2 linked regions of the Homo sapiens genome follow. The protein of the gene in region 2 interacts with the protein of the main gene of each other region in a pairwise test. Each region holds a gene or a part of one and is shown on either strand. Other genes may lie near its edges.

Region 1 (7,030 bases), on a different chromosome or scaffold from region 2:
TATACTTAGAACATTTGGATACCCCTGCTGTCAGGGATGGGAAGTAACACAGAGGTTTTAAGCGAGAAGTTCTACGGACTTGAGGTCTGGGATTTTTGCTCCGCATCCACCCGCGGACCCCTCCTCACCAAGCCGCTCGATCTGTTTGAAATCATCCGTTTGAAGGCCCAAAGAAGAGCCTGCCTCAACGAGAAGCCCTAGCACAGAGATATTCTCACAAAGAGCGCTCCGTAAGTACAAATGACTGTTTGATCAATCATTTGGCCTCAGCGTGGGATTTGGTTAGAATTAAAGCCATCTGGCTGGGGTTGACGGGGGGTACGGAGGGAGGAGACAAGCAGGCGGGAAAAAGACCCACCCCCCTCCCCCAAAAAGCATTGTTAAAACAGGGAAAAATAGTAAAGTTCCTGCTGTTATTTCAGCCTAAGCCACTTAATCCATCAGCACATAAAGCAACTTATTTTATGACCTTTTCCCTTTAAAAAATAAATCAGAAGACGATGCCTTGAATTCACATATCTCTGAAGCACACTACTCATCCCTCCCAGTGAAATATCCTGTTTCATAAACCTTCTTCGAGATACTTGAAACTGCAGATCACTAAATGCTTTGCTTTAGGCATCTGACATTCCAGAGAATTAATATTTAAACTTATTATAGGAAAAAAGAATTGAGTTTGGTTGAAGCATGAAATATTTAATAGTGTCTCCAAATTAGAAACCCTATTTTGTTTCGCGCTGGAAATGCCACGATATTACCTGGGCTTTGCACTCAAATAAGATAAAATGCAAAGGCAGTCTTGAGATTAAACACACAATTACAGCCGTTTTCTCCAGAGAGATGGGGAGTGAGACAGGTTTGGGGAGTGGAAGTGATTGAGTTTCATTTTTACGATATGCTTAAAATTATATTATCATTCTCTGCCTTGAGGGTTGGACTTGAGACTGCTGAAGCTACTTAACCACCGAAAACGGTGTCAAAATCAGTGACTCCGCGGAGGCCTATTCTCAGGCTCTTTAAACCGTCGTCTTGGGATGGGCCCAGTGACAAGCAAAAAACTCCGTAACTTTCTCTGCTTGCTAGGACAAAAGTATTCGGTGGTTTAGGATAAAAATTAAGCTCCAACTGACACAGTGGATCCTGGCAACCTCTGCCGGCACGTGTAATTTATTTACAGGGTTGGAAAGTTGGCAAAATACATCATCAACTCTTACACAAACTTCTACTAGGTATTAAATACCCAACCCTCTGAGAAGTAATTCATATAGTCCAGCAGCGTTCCAAAATAAACCCAATCTCCAGTCCTCCGGAGAGCTTAAAACAGCAAATGGGATCTGTATTTTTCAAGTCAGGTTTATAGTACTCCCTGGTTTCTTGCTAAAGCCTGATTTCTAGCAAACCTGTTATTTAAAAACAAAGGTAACATCTAAAAGAGTAATCTGGTTGCTAAAAAGACACAAATAGGAACAGGCTGGGCTGTACGGCAGGCAGGGCCATCCCTTGTACTTCATTCACTCCCCTTCAGACACAGCGGCACGTAGGAAGGCAAAAACACCTCGGACCAGAACGGCTCCTGCAAGTCCATCTTCAGAATCAGTATGACTCCCTGAGAATGTACACATTCTCATGAATGCACGTGCAAGGCCACAGATGCAACCAGCCGTGGGACCTTTACCTTCCATAGGGGGGGTCATCTAGCTCATTCATCATTTGACACAAAAGACCCATTTCTCACAAGCAAACTCTCAAGTTCACTCTGATCCCCAGCCTGTTCTCCCTCCCAAGCCCTACTTCATCCCACCAAGTGTTTAACAAGAAATAATTGTTTAATAGATCCCTGAGCCAACATGCTTGGGGAAGCACGTATTCTATAACCAGGCATGGTGGGGATCTTGAGGAATTCTCGTCCAACAGATGTCTTTGAAAGCCATAGAGGGGAGACTACGACCGGGGCCTTGGCAAGGAATCTCCCCATATGGCAAGAAAGACTCAGACAGGGACTACTACCTGCAATAACCAGTCAGGACGGGAGTTGCCACTGCTTCTGAGAAGCGGTCCCTCCTAGGGGCCCCCTCCATGGCCTCAGAGAGTCTTTTTCCAGACCCCAGATTCCTGAGGATCCTGAGTCACTGGGAACATTCTCCTTTCCCTAGTTCTGCAGGGGGAGAGGAGCAGTGCCCTACGGAGGCAGAGTATCCCCTGTAAGTCGCACCTCAGCCTGTTGGCTGAGACTGAGAAAGGGGTGCTCTGGGATGTGGCTGTCTGGGCCCCCTGCAGCCTCCTGCTGCCTTCCTTTGGGCTTCCTTGGGGGCGCGCAGCTCTCTAGAGCCGCATCCTCTCCTTCCCAGCCGCCTGGGTTTAAGAAGCTGGTCCTGGAGAGTGGTGTATTTTCAGAGGAAAGTACTGGCTCTGCTGTCAGACAGACCTGGGTTCAAATTCCAGGCTCTGTTGCTTACTACATGCACAACCTTGGACAAATCACTTTGCCTTTCCAAGCCTCAGTCCCCCCATCTTTAAAATTAGAACAGTGCCTCCTTTCTTCCTAGGGCTGCTGGGCATAATTAAATGTGATCACGTCTCTAAAGCATCTCACCTGGCACAGAACAGCCGCTCACTAAAGGTTAGTTGACCTCCCTCTTCCCCATTCTTTCTGTGTTCATCTTTAGCAGTCAAGAGTTCCAGTGTATAACCTGGTCTGAGACAAAAGTGGCCTCTTCCTACACCCCAGATCCTTCCAAACCTTCCCAGCCCAGTCAGTGTGGAATCCTGGAGTATCAGCAGGCAGGGACTATGGATCATCCAACTGAACTGCTCTCCATTTTACAGATGGGAAAACCAAGGCTCAAAGCACAGGGCACGGCCCACTTGCAAAGATGCTACACAATGGCTCATGTGTTAGCTCCAGGCAGGCCCAACCATAACCACCAAATAAATTCAGGCCATCCAGGAAATGCGTTATTCAGTTAACAGACTAAAGGTCTCTTCTCAGCGCATCTGACTCAAATGCTAACTTTAAAAACACAGCTCGTAATGCTAACACGATCCGCCTCGATCCACCGGAAACCTACTGAAGGAATAATCCTTTGGAGTTTAAGGGGGAAAAAGGGCAAAAGAAGAAAACATGCTTTAAGTGACTTTCAACTCTGAGACCACTGGGTTAGGGTTGTATTCTCTCCACCCCTACCCAGCCCAGCCTTCGGCTTTCTTTCAGTTTCTTATAAATATGGCTTTGGGAGACCAAAGTAGCCACAAAACTACTTTTCCCCCTCTTTTCTGCTTTCCTTACTCAGTAACTCAGCTGTCAGTCCCTGGACTTTGCTTCCAATGCTGAAAGCTTTTTTTTTTTTTTCATTGTAAACTATTAATTTGGGCAGTGGCTGCTGATAAACAAGAAGTCCGTTTTTAAACTGCTAGAATCATTAGCACAGTGAAGGCGAGCAGCACAAATATTTCAGGAGTTTGGTCTTTTTTCCTGGCCCTGGTATTACAGCTGTGCTTTTTGCATAATGCAGTCCAAGTTTTCAAAGCCCACTGCAAACTTTGTTTCATTTCTTCTCCCCCTTGAACTGAATGTCTTTGTTTCTTTAAATATAAAAATAAACTACCCCCCACCAAAAGAAACCACACAATTCTCTAGGTCCAAAATAATTGCAACGGAAATCTATATTAAAAAAAAAAAAATAACAAACCACACATTATAATTTAACTTTGAATATAACCGTATATGTAAGGTGAGGTTGCTGAAATACTACCACATCGTGTTGAAAACAGAATTCTTTTCCAAGACAATTGAGAGAAGGAAGGGAAATTATCCTCAGCGATAGTCACTGGTCGACTTCCCAATAAAGTTTATTTGTTTGTTATTTTTTCCCCTAATCCTATCCAAAACAGATTGAAAACCCTGTCCCAAACTTTAGTTTCTCCCCTCTTCCAGGATACTGGCCAAACTCCACAAAGTAAAACCGAAGAAAATGATGATAATTATGCAACATTCAGAACAAAGAACATAAGAATATATTTTTTTAAGTGATTCATTGTGCACTTATGCCTGTAATGGGATTTTAACGCACTGTAAAAATAAGTGTGCTGGCTCACTAAGCTTCTCACGCAAATGAAACGCAGGGAGATGAGTAACTCTGAGATGAGGTTCATTTTGTTTTTTGTTTTTTGTTTTTCAGAAAAAGAAGGATGAAGAAAAATCATAGCATATAAAGAAATTTACATTTTTAAATCACAGATGGAGCAACATAGACTATCGATGTGATTCCACAGCTCTGAAGCTCTGCAGACCTCAGTCCAGCTAAGCACGCTACAGGTAAACTACTCAGAAACAACTAAGCCTAAATTAAATTACGATCTCACGTGATGGTCCCCTTGCCATTTTGCCCACAGAGTCCTAGCTTCTAGAAAGCTTGAGAGGCAGGAAGGGAAGAGGAATTCTAGCCGCCCGAGATTCTTAGGGAATCTTTGGGAATTATATTTCCGCTACATGTCTATAAAAGATTTGTCGGATACATAACTCTTATGACTGTAGACGCAACATGTTCCTATCTCATTTTTTACCCACACACATACTTGTTTCTCTTTGTCTCACTGAGCCTGACATTTGGCCAGCAGGTTTTTCTCCCCCTTATTTGAAACTTCATGCACTGAAAAAATTTGGATCTGATTATTTCCGGATCGCAGGACCAGCACTTTAAAATGGATGAAATGCAAGCAAATTGCCCACCGGAGCCGGAGGGGAGAAATGCTTTAAAAGTCACTCATACCTTTCTATGAGGGATGCGCTAGCCTTCCAAGGCCTCCCCAGAACATCACAGGAGCTTCTTATTCAGATGAAGAAATTCAACCAGGTGGTACCACCAAAACATCATGACTTACTGTCCACCGCCCCCACTCCGAGTCCATGCGCACAATCTACAATTCCTTTTTTTTTTTTTTCAAGTTACAAGACTGACTGCTTTTTGGCATTTACAGCCATGATGGCTGTTTTTATAACGGCGGGGTTCACATTTGTCGTGATCAACCTCTTTTTTATTGCAAGGATGCATCCAGTCTCAGTACACAGTGAAAGGGCCCAGTGAGTCACTGTAAATTAAATAGTGACCTCATTATCTGGTTTGGTGTGGGAACAGCAACTCTGGACAAATGGAATCATGTGGTAAACTATAAAGTTTTCTAACTATGGCATAGATACTAGTTACCAATTCCCAAAGATGTGAGACAGTAGAAATACCAAAAGCAAAAGACATTTTTAAATTCTCTGGGAACGTTCAGAAGGCCTTCGTGTGAATGCCAGCTCTCGGCCGCCAACACACACATGTAGAAGGTACAAGTTGTGGAACCAGAATCAAATATTTGCAGCTGGAAGCCTGGAAACTGCCACCTACTGTCTGCAGCTTTGAGCAAATCCCTGAACCTTAATGTCTGCATCTATAAAATGGGAATCACATTAATAACAGCCAGTATCTGCCCAGCACTTTACAGACTTCTACATCTGCTCCCTCACAAGAGCCCCCAAGGCAGGCAGAGCCCAGCTGGCGTGAGGGCAGACAAGAGGATGTGTGGGAACACGCTCTGAACACTGTAAAGCACCGTGCACAGAGAACAAGCGTCATCAGGCCATCACCACAAAGCTGTCCGCCTGCATAAAGCCCAGATGTTTACCTTCTTTCCTTGTCAGGACTTATAAAAGCAGAGTGTCGGGTGTTTAATAATAGGAAAGAAAAATGCAGCATCTGGCAATTTGGCTTTTCCAGCTGTTTGGAATCTGGATAAACGGGACTCTGCCATAAACAGATCATGATTCTTATTGTAAATGATGACAATGTTAGTCCATGACATCACACCATCCCAGTGCCTCCCGATTCCAGATCAAATACACAGGCCCCAGACATTTATGGATAAACTACTAGGTTCAAGAACCCACTCTCTTCCTCTGCTTAGGGACTGTCTGAGGCAGGCGGCAGAGCATCTGAAACCTGACCCCAGGCTGAGCCATACTGTCTTCTCTCCGGTCACTGGGCAGCTGTGGCCACAAAAGACCTGAAGCTTGGCACCTCTCAGCCTCCCCTGGCTAGCACACCACAGTTAGCACCCTTCACATTCAGCATTTTAAAAATGTAACCTTGCTTCCTTCTCACTCTGTCCCCTTTATCTCAAGTGTCACTGACCCTTGCATGGGCCCTGCACGAATTAATAAAAGTGCCTCCTTCTACCTTTTTAGCTTATAAGGCATTCTTACAACTCTTGTTTTATTTACCCTGCAAGGTAGGCACCATTACCTCTCACGCAAATGAAAACCCAGAGGTTGAGAATGTGAAACAGGTTACAGTAGTAATCCTAAAAATAACCAGGCACTGAGGTGGCCCTTGCACATTCTTTATCACTAATGATCTCATCAGTCTTGCGAATTAAGTCTCAGGGTAAATTTACAAACGAAGGAACCAAAGGCTCAGAAGAGTAAAATCGATTCCCCCAAGTGCCACAGATCATAGATGGTGGGGTCTCACAATTCCCAGCACAGTCAATACATATTTTTCAATTGGTATTTCTGTCTGTTTCCAATAAGCCTGAGAACTTGGAGCTAGACACCAAATATTCAAAGGGTTACATGGTCTGGGACTATTTCGGTGGGAGTAGGGGCAGTAAGAAGGTGCCGTTTCCTCGCAGCATTTTTAAGGACGCTGAAGAACTGGGGGAAAGCTGGGTTTGTCTCGGGCCACTTGGTGACTGCACTGTGAGGAAAAGCTTGCCTATAGCAACACAGAGGCCAGCAGGGAAACCTCTCCAAGCCCAGGACCCTGAGCCTTCCCTTTCTCCCTAGGCCAGGTTAGGCCAGAGCTGTGGCTTCCCTAACCACTGCCCTACACATACCAAACACTTTCCCACCTTCAGGCCTCAGTTTCCTCACCCTTCAAATGAGTGGGATACATCCCACCACAACAGCCTCACTGGGAGGCTATGAAGAAAAGTTGTGAAACCTCTTGGAAAAAAGCTTCACCAGAGAGACCAGCTTAAGGTACAAAGA
Region 2 (7,787 bases):
AACCCAGTGTGTCCAGAAGGCAGGACATCAAGTCCAAGATTATTCTCAAGCCTTATTAAGGCTTAACATTGTTTGCCCCACTGGGTTAGGACCTGTCAGTAACACTCCTTTCTTCCTGTTGTTCCCTTTTGGAATGGGAATGTCTATTCTATGCATGTCCTACCATCGTATTGTGGAAGCACCTAACTTGTTTGATTTCACAGGCTCACATGTGGAGGAGAACTTGTCTCAGGATGAATCGTATCTTGAAACTCATCCATATCTGATTTGGATGATGATATTCAGACCAGACTCTGGACTTAGACTTCTGAATTGACACTGGGATGAGCTAAGACTTTTGGGGCTATTAGGATGAAATCAGTGTATTTTGCATGTGAGAAGGACATAAATTTTAGGGAGCCAGGAAGTATCTGTGTCCCTCCAAAGTTCATTATGTTGAAACCTCATTCCCAATGCAATAGTATTCAGAGGTGAGACCTTAAGGAGGTGATTAGGTCATGAAGGCACAGCCCTCATGAATGAGACTTGTGCCCTTATAATAGAGCCCTATGAGCTTATTCACCCCTTCTGCCATGTCATGACACACCAAGAAGGTGTCATCTATGAGGAAAAGGGCCCTCACCAGACACTGAATCTGCCAGTGCCTTGATCTTGGATTTCTGAGCCTCTAGAACTGTGAGCAATAGATGTATATTGTTTACAAATTACCCAGTCTCAGGTATTTATTTTATCATAGCAGCCTGAACAAATTAAGACAGGCTAGTAAGAAAAGGTAGAGTTTAAGGAAAGGTAACTTTGATTTTAGACAATTTTTAAAGGTAAGACTAGAACTTAGAGATAACTAATTGGGAATCATACAGAGCAGCAGGCACGGTGGAAACACAGAGGAGAGGGGTACAGAGAGAGCAGAGGAGATGCCTCAGGGGACAGCCAAGGTCTCCAGGGCTAGGAGGGAGGAAGAGTTAGCAAGGTTAATGGAAGAGCTGCGGTCTTGAGTGATGGTGGTTATGGAAACAGCATCATTTCTCCATTCATTAGTGCAAAGTGCTCTATTTTCTCAGTATAGATTTCAGACTAAATCTAAAGAACCTATATTCAAAGACATCCATAAAAAAGACTACACAGTACACTGTCAAGTAAGAACGACAAAGGGTTCACTGGGTTTTTAATAGTCAAGGCTGGTACTAGACTGCAGACCCCAGGGAATGCTTTTCATGGCTGTATTAATGTATCAAGTTCTAAGTCAACAAATTGGCAGTTGCAATGACTTTTTTAACCAGAAATAATTATTAATGGGAAAAGCAAGTTTCCAACATCCCTATCCTTCCCACATTATGACTTCCATTGACAGTGATTTTTAAATATATAATTACTCAGAAAATGGATTAAAACCAGATTATTCACTGTCCGACACCAAATTTTTTCAGTGATGTTAAAAATTCTCTTTTTGGATAGTAATTTCCATCACTTGGAAAATAAAAGCCAAATACAGTATGATCAATCAAGAGTGTTGCTGGTCGCACTGAAAACTGTGAATCCAGGGGAGATACATGCCTTCTGGCTGGAGTTCCTCCCCAGAAACAAGGGGCAAGACCAGTACTAACAGCAGGAAAATGAAATTTCAACCCACAAGGCCCTCTGTGGTCAGGTGCCACCCAGTCCCAAGTAGTCAGTCTCTAAATGCTGAGACCTCTGAGAAGGCAGGAACTTTCTGGAACTATTGTGTTCATTTTAAACTTACAGATTCTGCTGGCTTGCATTTTATTTTATACTAACTTGCCTACTATCCCTTTAAACTGCCTGTTCTCTCCCTCATCTCTCTTTAAACGAAAAATAATATCCTATAAAACAGAGCAGACAGACAGCTGTGCACTACTGCGTAATCCATCTTTCTAAAATCCTCACACTTGACACAGAAGCCAACTCTCATTTTAGATGCTTGGAAATAGAATCAAGAGCAAATTCTAGCATTCTGGGTGGCTAGGTTGAAAGTACACATGGCAGTTCTCAGAAGGGTGATGGGGCCAGCGTCAAGAAATGCTCTGTTCTTACCGATCACACCCTTCATCCAGATCTTGACAATCACACAAACAAGTAGCCACGTGGTTCTTTTCCCCATTCCGATCTATGTACTCGCAGCAGCACAGGGGCTCCAATTCAGGTTCTTCGGTTTTCTTTTTCTTCACAGGCTTCATACTGCCCTTCTGTGTCATGATTTGCACCTGTCACCATGAGGCGTAAGAAGCCCTCAGAAGGTAAAGGTGGAAAGAACACAACTTACATCTCGTAAATAGGTCCACGCCTCTCTCTCTCTGCTTAACCTCCAACGCCTGAGCAATCAAAAATGAGAAGAGAGAGGGGGAGGGGGTCCCGTTTTCATCAGGCTTCTGTGGCTCCGCCTGGCCACACAGGGGGCTCCAGGGTTCTTGGAGGTCTGAGCTGCCTTCACCGCCCCTTCCCAGCCTGGGCAGGCGCCGTCTGGGCACCAGCCGTTCCTATGGCGACAGCCGACCACGCGTCCGGGACAGCCGGGGCGCGGGCGGTTGCGCTCACCTGCGGGTGCAGGCTGGGAGGGCCGAGCGGTCTCCGCTCCAAGCCTGGGCGCTGGTGGGAACTCAGCCTCGGGGCTATAGGGAAAGGCGAAGCATATGCCCGCTAGCAGCGGCTGACACACCAGGCTCCCTGGCAGTGCTCAGGGGTCGCGGTCCAGCCCAACTGGTCGGGCCCCTTGCAGGGTGCGCCTCTCCCGCCCCCGCCAATCCGGAGGACGTGGGCGGGCCTCGCGCACCACCCCGCCAGGAGAATGACCTTGGAAGGGAAGTTACCTGCCCTCTGGCCGGAGGTGCAACTGCAGCCAAAGAGGCGGAGGGGAGATGGGTCGGCTTCCCCGGAGGCACAGACGCGTCTCCCGATCTCTGCTACGCGGAGCCCCGGGCGTGACGGCAGGAGTCTCCGGGACCCGGGCTCCGCTCGGCCGCTCCCTCGCCGCAGCCGCCCACCTGTGACCACAGCCCGCCGCGGCCCGGGCGGCGCGCCCGCCTCCCCGCGCCGTCCCAACCGCCCCTCCGCCCGCCCGGCTCGGTGCGCCAGGTCCACGCGCGCTTCCGGGTGCCCCGCCCCCGGCGCCGGGGTTCCCCGCCTGTCCGCACGTGCGCCGCCCGCCTCCCCGCGGTGCCCGCGGGCGAGGCTCCTCCTCCTGGCCCGCGGCCCTGGCGCCGGGAAGGGGAAAATCGGCTCCCGAGAGCGCGTCCAGGAGGCAGGGGCAGGAGGTGGGTCCCGCACCTCCGGCCTGCCCCGCCACGCCACGCCCCGCCCCGCCCCAGAGGCGGCAGCCGGGCGCCGCCGGTGCCTGCGGGCGGCGCGCCGGTGGGACAGCCTCCGGAGCCCCGGGGTGCGGACGAGGTGCGGAGACGGAAATACGGGAAACCCGGGAACCCGGAGGATTTCCGAACTACGTGAGACCGTGGAGCCGCCAGCCTTCATTCAGACTCCGGCAACAGGCGGTGAGGGAGCTTTCCACCGCAAAATGTTATCCAAGTACCTCCCCCAGTTTCGCTGACCTTCTCTTAAAGGCCCATCACTGCTGCCGGATCTGTTCATTTAGCAACCTGTTCGTTTCATGATTTCTGGCTAGCAGCCTTTACATTGGACCAGCAGGCCTCGCTAGTACTTTTGTTCCAGTCGTCTGTGTATTTGAGATGAAACTGCCCTGAGATGAGAGTCCTTTTTGGGTTTTATTATTGCACAAAATTTCTTTAAAGAGTGTGGGCCCATGTACACGTTTCACTACCGCAGGCTTTCTAGTTTTGTTTTTAAGTAGAAAAAGAAGAAAAACTACAACTCAGAAATTTTCAATTTTATTAATATTCAATTTACGTAACAGGCTCAAATTTTATTAATTGAATTCTGCATCCATACGAATTTAGTCTTAATTTATAAAGCAACTTACTTCGATACTCTTCCTTGAAGTATGTTATAAAATACAACGTTTAAATAAACATCACAAAAATATTGTTTGTCGATCATTTTTGTGACTTTAACAGAGAAATCTTCAAGTTTATAATCCACTCATTCTTGCTTACAGCCAGACACTACATAAATCCTTACCAAAACAAAACAAACCCAGGTAGGTTCACTGTTACCCCTAGGTATGCTTCGTTGGAATTCACCCAGAGAAACCCATTTTCCCTCTAACGGAGTCAATACTTTCATTCTCTACAGGCATCTCAAAAATGACTATAATAATGCCATGTGGCTTTGGGGACTCTGGAGAAAAATGAAACATTTAATTAAAGGCAATAGTTGTTCAAACAGTAAGAATGTATACACAGTTTATATATAGATAGATAGATGGATATGTATTTTTTCCCCAGAGAAAGGGCTCAAGAGACAAAACAGTAAAACACTTCAACTTTCCCTAACTCTTGAAAAAATATCTGATTTTAAGTCAGTTTACAAAGTTCTTATTTTAATGAGCCACTTGTATGGAGACACATATGCATAAAAACTTTTTATGAAAGAGCCAAAGCTTGCATCTGAGTTAAAACTTGATAGTCAGTACACTTGTACTGGGACATACGTGCCCCTGAAGTTTTTATTAAAGAGCTAAAATCTATGTCTGGCTTATAACTTACCAATCAAAACAAGTCACACACATACATAAAGAAGGAAGCCATACATGGTTACTGAAAATACACAAATTATTTTCAACCAGATGTGTCACTTCCACCATGAAAGACTGCTAAGCTGAAGCCAATCTTAGTTCAAGTATGCATTTGATCTGTCACTAAATGCCCAGATTTTAACATAACCTTCTGGTTTTTAAAACTCAGAGGATGGTTCTTCCTTTTGACTGTTGGTATTCTAAGTGAGGAGGCAAGATAATCCCACCTCTGATAGTTACCTTAAGAAAAAACAACTATTTCTTTCATAAAGATACAGCATGGCAGAAGACCCTTTCTGATAATCATCATCAACATGCAGATTCAAAAAGTTTGACTATTAAATTTGCATGCTAAATAAATGAAGACATTATAATCTTTACAGTACACAAACCTGGAAATGTTATATGCCTGAAAACAGAACCTTTAAAATCAGTAATGACATAGAGGTTTCTTCTTATATTGTCCTGTTTATCCTCTTGGTCTTATCTCAGTTACAAAAGCGACCTATTGGACATGTACGGATTCTGTGCTAACAAAGCATCAGACTTCACTGTAGAAATGAGACCATACCACTCAATTCAGGGTGTGTCATTTTCTTTTTGTATCAGAGAAATTCAGTTCTATAATATATTTCATGGTTCACTGAAGAAATTCACAGCTTAAAAATATCTATAAGAAGTGAAAGGATGGATTATTAAGGCCAGCAGAAACTAATTATCAAATAAATGTTACTGAAAGAAATGTTCATATTAGAAATCTCAATAATGAAAAAACATAGAAATGTTCTATGCCAAAATCCTTCATTCGTCTGGTTTTCTTCCAGGTATTTTCTTTAAGTTCCAAGTATCTCTGCGGTTTTAGTCCTTCAGATCACTAGCTTTCAACAGCCATGCCAGTCTTATTCTTATTTAGTAGATCAAACGTTTTCTGAAGCATAATGAGTGAGCTCTTCAGCTGTAAACAAAGTTAATTTTCAAAATCAGATTAATTTTTCTAATCAGATTTGAAAATTTCTGTTTTTTATGCCCAAAATTTACAGTGACACTTAATATAGTTTTGTTTATACTGATGCCCAAATAAAACGTTAAATACAAAATACCTGATTCTTTGGGGTATCTATCAGTATGATTGCTACAGAGTTCTTCCCATTTGCTGGAGTATTGTACTTCTTCCTACTGCTACATAGTCTACCTCCCAATAGGTCCATTAATCAAATTAAGCGTAGTGACAGACTCGTTTTCCTAAAAGATTTCTGAAGTTGCAGTGGTCTCCTCACTATCCCCTAAACAACTCAAGTTTGCTTCAGTGCCTTTGCATGCTCTCATCCTCATGTTCTTCACCTAAAACTTACTCATATTCACACTCTTCATGTAGTTTTCCCCAGTCATTCTGCCTATAAACTCCCAAAGCATTATCCTTACTACTTAACACTTTGACACTGAATTTTGTAATCTTTGTCATTAACAATACACCTGGACATCTCATTTCTCTAAGAAAATTGTGTGCAACTCAAGAGCAGGAATTATGTCTTACTCTTTTTTTGTATTCATTCAACAAATATTTGTTGCTTGCCTATCACATGTTGGGCAGTGTTCTAAGCACTGGATATACAATGGAGAACCAAATAGGCACTGTCCTGTCCTTCATGGAGCTTACAGACTAGTCAGGGATCCAGAACTATTAATAAAACAAATAATCACATACATAAATATATACTTAGATATTTTATTAAGTTTTTGACTTGAGCAGCTGGTGGATGGTAGCATCATTTTCTGAAATGAGACCCACTAGAGAATTAGGTTTTGGATTAGAGGAAAATTGACTTCTGTTTTGGACATAATCAGTTTGGGAATCCTGTTAGTCATCCAGGTGAAGATGCCAAGTAGGCAAGTGACTGTATGAGTCTAGAGCTCAGGTCGAGGTGAGAGATACGGACTTGGGAGTTGCTGCTATCTGAACATTTGTGTCCCCTTCAAAATTCACGTTCAAACTGAATCCCCAATGCAACAGCATGAAGAGACGTGGCCTCTGGGAGGTGATTAGGTCATGACGGCTCCTATGAATGGATTAGTGCTCTTATAAAAGAGCTTCAGGGAACTAAATAGTCCCCTTTTTTGTCCTTCAGTCCCTTCTGCCAGGTGGACACCAAACATGCCAGAACCTTAATCTTGGACTCCTCAGCCTCAGAACTGTGAGCAATAAATTTCTGTTCTTTATAAATTACCCAGTCTCCAGGATTTTGTTATAGTAGCACAAATGGACTAAGACAGGAGTCATTGGAACGTGTGGTTATTTAAAGTTAGGGGTGTGAATAAGATCACCTAAAGGGAGAGTAATAGAGAAGGAAAGAGAATCTAACACAGAGCCCTGGAGCATTTGGGCCAGGAGGAAGTCAGGCAGAGGAGATATTTTTATTTTTTATTTATTTTTATTTTTTGGAGACGGAGTCTCGCTCTTTCACCCAGGCTGGAGTGCAGTAGCATGATCTCAGCTCACTGCAACCTCCGCCTCCTGGGTTCAAACAATTCTCCTGCCTCAGCCTCCCGAGTAGCTGGGACTACAGGCGCCTGCTACCACCCCTGGCTAATTTTTTGTATTTTAGTAGAGACGGGGTTTCGCCAAGTTGCCCAGGCTGGTCTCAAACTTCTGAGCTCAGGCAATCTGCCTGCCTTGGCCTCCCAAAGTGCTAGGATTACAGGTGTGAGCCACTGTGCCCAGCCAAGGAGATGTTTTTAACTAGCAAAAATTAGTTTTACATTTTTCTAAGTGAAAGAAGCCAATCTCAAAAGACCACGTATTGTATTATTCCATGTATATAACATGTCCAGAATAGGCACACCCATAGTAATGGAAATTAGATTAGTGGGTGCCAGGGGTCAGGGGGAGTGAGGGATGGGAATTAACTACTAATGTGTACAGATTTTCTTGTGGGGTTATGAAAATGCTCTGGAATTAGATAGTGATGATGGTTGCACAACCTTGTGAATAAAAACTTTTATTGTATGTAAATTACATCACAAAAAGATTTTTTTATGGTTTTAAAGAAAGCAAGATTAGATACATTAGATACATTTCAAGAAAGAAGTGTTTAGCTCTGTCAAATGCTGACACTGTAGGATGAAG

Evidence for each region. The genes of interacting proteins can lie anywhere in the genome.
Region 1: the proteins of ZDHHC23 (region 2) and GLIS1 interact in binary tests that used the Homo sapiens proteins (3 or more experiments, as listed by UniProt).

What each region holds. Positions count from the first base shown.
Region 1 is NC_000001.11:53,729,135-53,736,164, forward strand, and holds part of GLIS1 (zinc finger protein GLIS1), read right to left. Parts: intron 5,070-7,030; exon of another isoform or gene 4,770-5,069; intron 1-4,769. UniProt on the Homo sapiens protein: Acts both as a repressor and an activator of transcription. Binds to the consensus sequence 5'-GACCACCCAC-3'. By controlling the expression of genes involved in cell differentiation inhibits the lineage commitment of multipotent cells.
Region 2 is NC_000003.12:113,943,229-113,951,015, reverse strand, and holds the start of ZDHHC23 (palmitoyltransferase ZDHHC23), read right to left. Parts: upstream 3,004-7,787; 5' UTR 2,826-3,003; intron 2,628-2,825; exon of another isoform or gene 2,331-2,627; 5' UTR 2,214-2,330; coding exon 2,053-2,213; intron 1-2,052. Other genes in the region: GRAMD1C (protein Aster-C), read right to left, coding at 5,538-5,618. UniProt on the Homo sapiens protein: Palmitoyltransferase that could catalyze the addition of palmitate onto various protein substrates and be involved in a variety of cellular processes.